3 separate regions of the Homo sapiens genome follow, and all the other regions are reported to be linked to region 1. Evidence: microRNA targets listed by miRTarBase, many of them from high-throughput screens and not tested one by one. Region 1 holds a microRNA gene; each other region holds the end of a gene's coding sequence.
Evidence for each region. The annotated mature microRNA hsa-miR-32-3p reads CAAUUUAGUGUGUGUGAUAUUU and lies in region 1 at 1,443-1,464, shown strand. An mRNA with a match to its seed (bases 2 to 7 or 8) in the 3' UTR can be bound and repressed. Matches are read on the target gene's strand: a 7mer-m8 pairs with bases 2 to 8, a 7mer-A1 pairs with bases 2 to 7 and ends in A, and an 8mer does both.

Region 1 (3,151 bases):
ATTTTCACATCACAGCTTTTGAATTTTCTCTTGTTCTGCTTTCTTACAGCAGACCATCCTCTAAATGTCTGTCACCTTTTTTCATACCAAATATGCCACCTTTTTTGTTTTAAACTTAATTCCTAGCTGTTGTGTTTGCCAGTCAGTGGTAAGTAAAGCTGTTAGTCACACCTAGGTTCAGCTGATTGAAAGCACATACTCTGTTACACCATGATGCCTTCTTTCAAGAGGAGCTGGTTAGGGAAGATCATGACTTATATTTGTGGACATAAGAGGGTGGCATTTAGAAATTCAGGTCTTTGGCTCAGGAGAGAATTTGAGATTACAAAGAGTGCTGTCATCTACAGCGATATGAGGAAATCAGTCTTTTACAAATTAGATTCGACTTCCCTTCTTGGGAGTGCATACACTAATTATGTATTATAACAGTAGCTTATGTCTTGGTTCCATAGTATACTGGCATTTAAAAACCATTTGTTTTATTATCACCTTATTTTAAATACAGAAAAAATTTTAACAACCTTTGGTACCAGAACTATAATCTAATGGTTCTCAGAATTGATAGATTTTTATGAGTCTGATAAATATGGTACAGACTAAAGAATGGGTTATGGCCTGAGACATTTTTCTAACCAAAGCTATATCAAGTTATGTAATTTTAAGGCTATAATTCAAGGTGTTTTTTTTGCAGTTTAAGTTCCTAGGGCTGTTTCTTTACTGGCTCAAATTCAAGACTTAAAATGTACAGATTTTACAGAGATTCCTCTGAAGAGCTTTCTCCTGTGGAGAAGATGGTAGTGAGTTCTCTTTCTAAGAGCTCCTGTTGGATTTTTCATCCTGAAGGTTTGTGTTGAAGAGGCAATATGTTTCTTCATGGAAAAAGATTTTGAGGGAAAAATAAGTGGTTATTTATAATTTATGAATGACTATGAAAATATTGTAATGTCCTCAAAGTGCAGTTTAGCCTACAAATATCAGTGATACCAACTTTTATAAGCATCAGTCATTAATCATCATCTATGTTGCAGCTAAGTGGAAATCATTACATTCATTTATATGATCTGTGAATAAGTCAAAAATGGAATTGAAATTGGGGGTTAATTGCATGACCAGACAGTGATAGTGTCTGTTCGTGAAGCTTTGCCTTCTGAAGTATGTGGTTTCTTTATGATCACTATCTCATTGAAGTTTTGAACCTTACTCATTATTTTGATTCTGAATAAGTATTCTTCTCAGTTGAATACATTTGCAATTGGGTTTTCATTTCATGAAGTTTTGAGTCAGTGGCATGCATCCTTTATCCCCAGACCATTTTCCTCTCTTCAGCAGCATGTTGTCTCCTGAATGTATACATCACACCCTTCTTCCCTGATGCTCCCATTCTGCTTGCTCTGGTGGAGATATTGCACATTACTAAGTTGCATGTTGTCACGGCCTCAATGCAATTTAGTGTGTGTGATATTTTCACATGAGTGCATGCACACGGGTATGGCTCTTGCTTGCTGGGATTACAGCTTTTCAGTGCCAGTGGGTGGGTGTCCTGATGAATTAGATAAGACAGTGTGTATGCCATGCGATTCTCATTTGGAAAGTGAACATGCTTCCCATCGGTACCTTCCAATTTTGGAGAATTAAAAGTATTTGGATTAAAAAAAGTCAGCAATGATCATTTAGTAAATCAGTGTTTCCATTTTTTACTTTGAGCAAATGAAATATTTATTACAAATTCTCATTGATTTAAGAGTATAAACAATATTTAAATGTATAAGGAAGAATGTAAAGCTGTAAGAAAATGTATTTTCATTTATTTGAAGAAATCTCTCCCAACACTGGAATAGAGAAGCAGAAATCTCTTATGCATATTTGGGGAAATTAAATTAACTGGAGTTCTTAAATAATAATCAAGACAGTAAAGGTATGCTTAACCTACCTGATGAAAGATTCATCTCATAAACTTAAGTTTCCAAGGTAAATTACCTTAAAAATGTGTCTTTTACTTTCTCATTGTGATGCTTCGAAAACTGCTAAATTCATTTTAGTGGGCTAATAATGGAACTAGTTTTGAAATACACGTTTACTATTTGCCTATGTAATTGAAACAACCCCTTGTTATTTTTTTAGTTAGCATTAGAGTAAGCATCCACAATCACTAGGCATTGTCAAGGACACAAAACCATGTATTACTGTATGAAAATATTGAATTAATATTTACTACTACCATAGCCTCCAGATGATCTATTGTGATGCTGTCATTGTATGTTTCTGTGTTTCACCACTGTTTTGGAGGGTGAGAATGGAAGAATTCCACGTAAGCAGCTCATCCCCTGTGCCCTTCAGCAGCTCGGCCGTTCCCCTCATGCTGGAAATCTAATGTCAGCCAGGTTGCTATATGACACCCTGTGGAGCTGGGTTTCCAGGGCAGATTAATCAAGAAAGGGAAGATGTGACCTCTCAAGGGAGGTTGGGGCTGGGAAGGGGTGGGTAGAGAGAGATTTGTTAAAGGATACAAAAATTACTTAGAAGGCATAAGTTCTAATGTTCTACAGCACTGTAGAATGACTGTAGTTCAACAATAAATTATATCATTTCAAGTAGCTAGAAGGAAGATACAGAATGCTCCCAACAAAAGAAATGAGGCCAGGTACGGTGGCTCACGCCTCAAATCCCAGCACTTTGGGAGGCCAAGGCGGGCAGATCACCTGAGGTCAGGAGTTCAAGACCAGCCTGGCCAACATGGAGAAACCCCATCTCCACTAAAAATACAAAAATTAGCTGGGCTTGGTGGCATGCACCTGTAGTCCTAGCTACTCGGGAGGCTCAGGTGGGAGAATCTCTTGAACCCAGGTGGTGGAGGTTGCAGTGAGCTGTGGTCATGCCACTGTACTGCAGCCTGGGCGACAGTGAGACTCTATCTCAAAAAAAAAAAAAAAAACCAAAATGATAAATGATCAAGATGATGGATATGCCAATTACCCCTATCTGATTACTATACATTATATGTATTGAAACATTATTATGTACCCCATAAATATGTAGAGAGCAGTCAAGGGAGCTGGCGAGTACTTTTCCCACTGGTTATTGTATATACTGTGTCTCTAAAAGCTGACTGGTCTCTCCCACCAGCTCACTTTCTACTTGAGACATACCATAT
Region 2 (3,000 bases), not on the chromosome of region 1:
CTATGTCCCCTTCGCTTATATTAGCTGCCCTGTGCCCATTCTATCATGTCATTTCCTTTCAGCCTCCACCTCCTGGATGCCCTCCCAATGCTGCTCAGCTTGCAGTCATGCAGGGAGCCAACGTCCTCGTAACTCAGCGGAAGGGGAACTTCTTCATGGGTGGTTCAGATGGTGGCTACACCATCTGGTGAGGAACCAAGGCCACCTCTGTGCCGGGAAAGACATCACATACCTTCAGCACTTCTCACAATGTAACTGCTTTAGTCATATTAACCTGAAGTTGCAGTTTAGACACATGTTGTTGGGGTGTCTTTCTGGTGCCCAAACTTTCAGGCACTTTTCAAATTTAATAAGGAACCATGTAATGGTAGCAGTACCTCCCTAAAGCATTTTGAGGTAGGGGAGGTATCCATTCATAAAATGAATGTGGGTGAAGCCGCCCTAAGGATTTTCCTTTAATTTCTCTGGAGTAATACTGTACCATACTGGTCTTTGCTTTTAGTAATAAAACATCAAATTAGGTTTGGAGGGAACTTTGATCTTCCTAAGAATTAAAGTTGCCAAATTATTCTGATTGGTCTTTAATCTCCTTTAAGTCTTTGATATATATTACTTGTTATAAATGGAACGCATTAGTTGTCTGCCTTTTCCTTTCCATCCCTTGCCCCACCCATCCCATCTCCAACCCTAGTCTTCCATTTCCTCCCGCCAGTCTCCATTGAATCAATGGTGCAGGACAGAAAGCCAGTCAGACTAATTTCCTTCTTTCCTCGCACTTCTCCCCACTCGTCATCTTTTAACTAGTGTTTCACAAGGATCCTCTGAAACCCTCTCTGTGCCCCAAGTACAGATGCCATTACTTCTGCTTTCGTATCTCCTCAGGCAAAAGTGGAGGGTGCCTTATGGGCCCTCCTCATAGGTTGTCTCTGCATACACGAACCTAACCCAAATTTGCTTTGGTGCCAGAAAAACTGAGCTATGTTTGAACAAAGATGTCGTGCAAACTGTACTGTGAACAACAGTTGGTTTAAAATATGAGGGGCAAGGAGGAGGATGCATTTCAAAAGCTTGATTGATGTGTTCAGAGCTAAATTAAGAGGAGTTTTCAGATCAAAAACTGGTTACCATTTTTTGTCAGAGTGTCTGATGCGGCCACTCATTCGGCTCCCCAGAATTCCTAGACTGGGTTAATAGGGTCATATTGTGAATGTCTCACTACAAAATGACTTGAGTCCAGTGAAATCTCATTAGGGTTTAAGAATATTTCAGGGATCCTTAATGTTTTGATTTTTGTTTTCTGAAATTGGATTTTATTTTATTTTATCTTATAATTTCAGTTCATCTAAATTGTGTGTTCTGTACATGTGATGTTTGACTGTACCATTGACTGTTATGGAAGTTCAGCGTTGTATGTCTCTCTCTACACTGTGGTGCACTTAACTTGTGGAATTTTTATACTAAAAATGTAGAATAAAGACTATTTTGAAGATTTGAATAAAGTGATGAAGTTGCATTACACCTCACTGCAAGGATTCTTTACTTAGCTTGTTTTTAGATTTCTTCTATATATATTTTATTTATATCCCATCTAGAATTCAGCTAGGTGCTGCTGCTGCTCTGTTTCCTTTGATGACGCTTTGAAATAAAGGCAGGAGTACAAGCCTAAGACTTGATCATTTCATGAATTCCATTCCAGATGTTCAACTTTTCATCATTTTACTCCAACCTCTTACAAATTTTGGAATTTCGGACCTAAACTTAGAAATGAGGGAACTATTGATTCTCCTAACTTGCTCTAAAGTTTGGCTTGAAGAAAAGGTTCTGGTATAGCAATTTGTATACGTTGAGGATGACCTTTAGTTTCTCCAATGTTCTATGTGGAGAAATACTGAAAACTCATAGAATCTAGGTTGCCAAGATAGATTCCTCAGCTCTTTTATTTATTTTTTGAGACAGGGTCTCCCTCTGTCACCCGGGCTGGAGTGCAGTGGCAGTGTCTGCTCACTGCAACCTCCACCTCCCGGGTTCAAGTGATTCTCCTGTCTCAGCCTCCTGAGTAGCTGGGATTACAGGCACCTGCTACAACACCTGGTTCATTTCTGTACTTTTAGTAGAGACGGCTTCACTGCGTTGGCCACGCTGGTCTCAAACTCCTGACCTCAAGTGATCTGTCTGCCTCAGCCTCCCAAAGTATTGGGATAACAGGCAGTGAGTCACTGCACCCAGCCAGATTCCTCAGCTCTTGATCTTAACTTGGTTGGGTTTGAGCTTGGACAACAGAGGCAATACATTAAGACTTCAAAGGAGATCTAGCTTTAATTCCAAAGTGAACAATATCTGATGAGCTAATAATTTATACCAAAATGTGCCTTTTAAACACAACTTATCTTGAGACTAAAATCCAAGAAGCTTCTTGGCTTGATTCTGAGGATACACTGGGAAAGGTGGTAGGTTGATTTTTTCTGGTTCCTTCTGTATATATGTAGAAGGGATTCTGGGAAATTCTGGCCCTTGCCAGGATGGAGGCTTGAACCAACTCATCTCCCAGGGTACTTTTTTTTTTTTTTTTTTTTTTGAGACGGAGTCTCACTCTGTTGCCCAGGCTGGAGTATAGTGGTGCAATCTCAGCTCACTGCAAGCTCCGCCTCCTGGGTTCAAGCCATTCTCCTGCCTCAGCCTCCCAAGCAGCTGGGACTATGGGCGCCCGCCACCACGCCCAGCTATTTTTTTTATATATTTTTAGTAGAGACGGGGTTTCACCGTGTTAGCCAGGATGGTCTCGATCTCCTAACCTTGTGATCCGCCTGCCTCGGCCTCCCAAAGTGCTGGGATCACAGGCGTGAGCCACCGAACCCGGCCCTCCCAGGGTATGTTTCTAATGATGTTCCCCTGGAACAAGCTTTCCTGCACCATCTTTGTCTCAAATCCCTGAGATAGTTCTGCAAACTTCTAGAACTTTCCTAGGGTTCTTATTGCTTGGAAGAGAACATATGTAAAGGC
Region 3 (3,000 bases), not on the chromosome of region 1:
ACTAAATCTCGATTTCTTAAAAATAATTTATTGCTCTTAATAGTCTTTTTATTATTATTCTACAACAGAAGATACTCAAAATTCAGAAAGAAAGACTGTAAACTTTAGTTTGGCGTTCACACAGTTAAAATACCTGCATTTAACCTACAGAACAACAAGAATTAGGCGGATTAAAGATGTGTTACTGTTGTAACGCAGAACCTGTGAACAAGTTCTTTCATTTCATAGTATTTTTATTGCTTTCTATCTACTTAGAAATAAGAAGCCAAAAAATCAAGCAAGCATCCGACAGGACAAACAGTGGATTCACTCAGAACACAATATGCTGGTGATAAATGAATGCAGCTATCAAAATTAGCTGCATTGGCCTGGGGGTGAAATCCATCTTACAAGATCGTGTTGGGCGAGAGAAAGGAAAAGAACAATTGAGTAGTAGGTGTATCATGTCTTCCAGAAAAGTCATGTCAGCCAAACAGTAATCGAATCTCAATTTAGAAACTTGAATACACACTCCAAATGTTACTGAATTCCATTCCAGGGACTCCACACTCAGATGAAATCCTGATGATCAAAATGGAGGTTTTTCTGAAGTTTTTATTAAATTTAGCAGAAGCAATGTCATCAAGAACAACACCATGGTCACGTCAGAGGCCATGCTAGTGCAAGTAGAAACACTGCTTCTGCAAAAGCTGAATTTCCCAAATGAAGCACTTACACTCCAACCTGACAATTGTCATGCATCCTAGGTAGAAAATTTCCACTGGCTTTATTATTTTCATCATCTCATAATTTATAATAAATAGGCTATCTGCAACTGATAAATATGTCTCTTTAGTAAACAAAGGAATGAAATATCAGTATTTATACAGGATGCATAACTGTAAAAAATACAGATAAATACCATCGTCATACTCTGCCAAGGGAAAGAAATACTGGCTTCAAAGATAGTCTTCAGACACACATTAATTATTGTAAAAATCATACTATAATTATTACCTCAGCATTTTGTATCAAATTAAAATCACAAAAATTAAAACAAAACAGCATTTTAAAAAGATTTTTGACTTCTAGTTTCAAAACTACTGTTGATAGAGAAAATAAAAACATTTCTTAATGGTTACCCATTGAGAGACTTTACATAAAATCATGATATCTTCTAGAAAAATTTTAGATGAGAAAATTTCATTCCCCTAACAAATCCAGTGTATAAAACTTCAAAGAAAAACAAGCGACAAGAAAATGTGGAAAAATATCGCAGAAGTGGTTAATACCTTTAGGGGACTAGGATATTTCTTGACAAGATGCTTAGATTGAAGCTCACCTAAGGGATGGATGTGCGGAAAGCATCATTTTGCTCTTGTTGCACTCAACAGACACACACACTGTCTTTTTGTTTTTACAATCAAATATATATAAGCAGTAAGTTCAGCTTCTAAATATGTTAGTGTACAATAATTGTTTCACCTCATAATTACATTTGAATATTCTTGATTAAGAAAAATTTAGCAGTTTTGAAAAGAAGGCTGCATTTACAGTGCATAGCTGTAACAAAAAAGAACATTGTTGTATAGTATATACATAAAATAAAAATACTCCATTTAACATCTGTAAATACTTAACTACATCAGAGAATGTAGCAATTACACTATCTGAACACATCTCAGAGAGTTCTACCCAACTCTCATTAGTAATGTAACCCGGTGTCCGCTCCTCAGAAAGAACCGCTGAACAAGCTGCACGCTTGACCATTGACAAGGCTTTTGAAATTTGCAGTGGAAGATCAACATTTTGGACATTTACATGGGTGTCAGGATTAAGGATGAACTACAGAAACTTCAAAATGTTAGGAAACTTTAGCATTCTGGTGCCCGCAGTATCCTCTCCCACCCAGATTCCATGGCAAAAGGAAAAAGAAAAAAAAAAGAGAGAGAGAGAGAGAGAGAGAGAGACAGGATATTAGTTCTATGGAACCTGTGGTTTCTTCAGGATTGTCATATAATCATTACGTTATGAGAGAAAGCTTGCTTCAAGTTGATTCTGCACTTTCTTAAAAAAACAGAGTACAAAGGCTGATGCCCAGACATCAGCGGCTGTCATTTTAGGGTGGTTTGTGGTTGGTTGGTTGGTTGGTTGGTTGTTAGTTTTCTTTCCTTTTTAATTTATATATATATATATATATATATATATATATATATATATTTCCTTTTGAATAGAATACGAACATTTTGAAGTTCTAGGTTTTAAGCGTGTCTTCATGGAACTGCTGCCATTTGAAATGGTTTGCCCTTGCGCATTCTGGTCAGGTGCCCCCAGTCCTCACATGTACCCACACATACTTCCCCTAAACCAAGCACACACACCACACACATACATACACACACACATACATGCACACACGCACACTCCATCACCAAGAGACTCCAGGAAAAGCAAAGCTGACACCCATGAATAAACATGTGCTTACTGGATATCATTCTGTCTCTTGCCTCTTCAGCAGCTGTGTTCATGTAAACCATTGTTGTTATTGTTGTTGTTGTTCTTGTTGTATTGTTGTTGTTTTGTTTTGTTTTTGTACAGAGAGTGTAAAGTAGGAGAAATTCCTAAGTATGACTTGCAATAGTCTTTAGGGAAGGACGCGCTGTCCCATGAGGTATTCGCCATCCCTCTGTCATCCTCAGCTAGGGAACATGTTACCTGCGCAAGCTTCTCTGAGCTTCTTTCAGTAAACTATCAAAATCCAGAGAGTCATACTTGCTCTTGGTGGAAGCAGGGTCAAAGTCATCTGAGTTTGAATCTGAAAAAAAACACAAGCCAGTTTAGATACACACTTTGCTGATGGCCATTAACTCAATCATTCCAATTCAAGATTACTGGATTCGATAACAACTCTTCCAATCAATATACTTTAGAAAACAATAGTCAGATTTTATTGGATATATATGGATATATAGGAAGAGGATGGGGAGTAGTGAGCTTTCAAAAACACGCACCTGTTGACTC

Region 2: the mRNA of DAZAP2 is a reported target of hsa-miR-32-3p. Seed matches in the 3' UTR shown: 8mer at 1,088-1,095 and 7mer-m8 at 1,343-1,349.
Region 3: the mRNA of PPARGC1A is a reported target of hsa-miR-32-3p. Seed matches in the 3' UTR shown: 7mer-A1 at 2,156-2,162, 7mer-m8 at 1,500-1,506, 7mer-A1 at 787-793, 7mer-m8 at 601-607, 7mer-m8 at 489-495 and 7mer-A1 at 24-30.

Annotation. Positions count from the first base shown.
Region 1 is chr9:109,044,544-109,047,694 of GRCh38, reverse strand. It overlaps MIR32 (microRNA 32), which reads left to right and starts at 1,397; the gene lies at 1,397-1,466. The region is part of intron 14 of TMEM245 (transmembrane protein 245); the gene reads left to right.
Region 2 is chr12:51,242,268-51,245,267 of GRCh38, forward strand. DAZAP2 (DAZ associated protein 2) reads left to right here. Exons shown (of 4, transcript NM_014764.4): 4 at 63-1,666. The coding sequence ends at 191. It overlaps SMAGP (small cell adhesion glycoprotein), which reads right to left. Exons shown (of 4, transcript NM_001031628.2): 4 at 2,291-3,000. Among named protein-coding and RNA genes, the nearest start is that of DAZAP2, 4.9 kb to the left of the region's middle.
Region 3 is chr4:23,793,132-23,796,131 of GRCh38, forward strand. It overlaps PPARGC1A (PPARG coactivator 1 alpha), which reads right to left. Exons shown (of 13, transcript NM_013261.5): 13 at 1-2,794. The coding sequence ends at 2,691. Among named protein-coding and RNA genes, the nearest start is that of PPARGC1A-AS1, 26 kb to the left of the region's middle.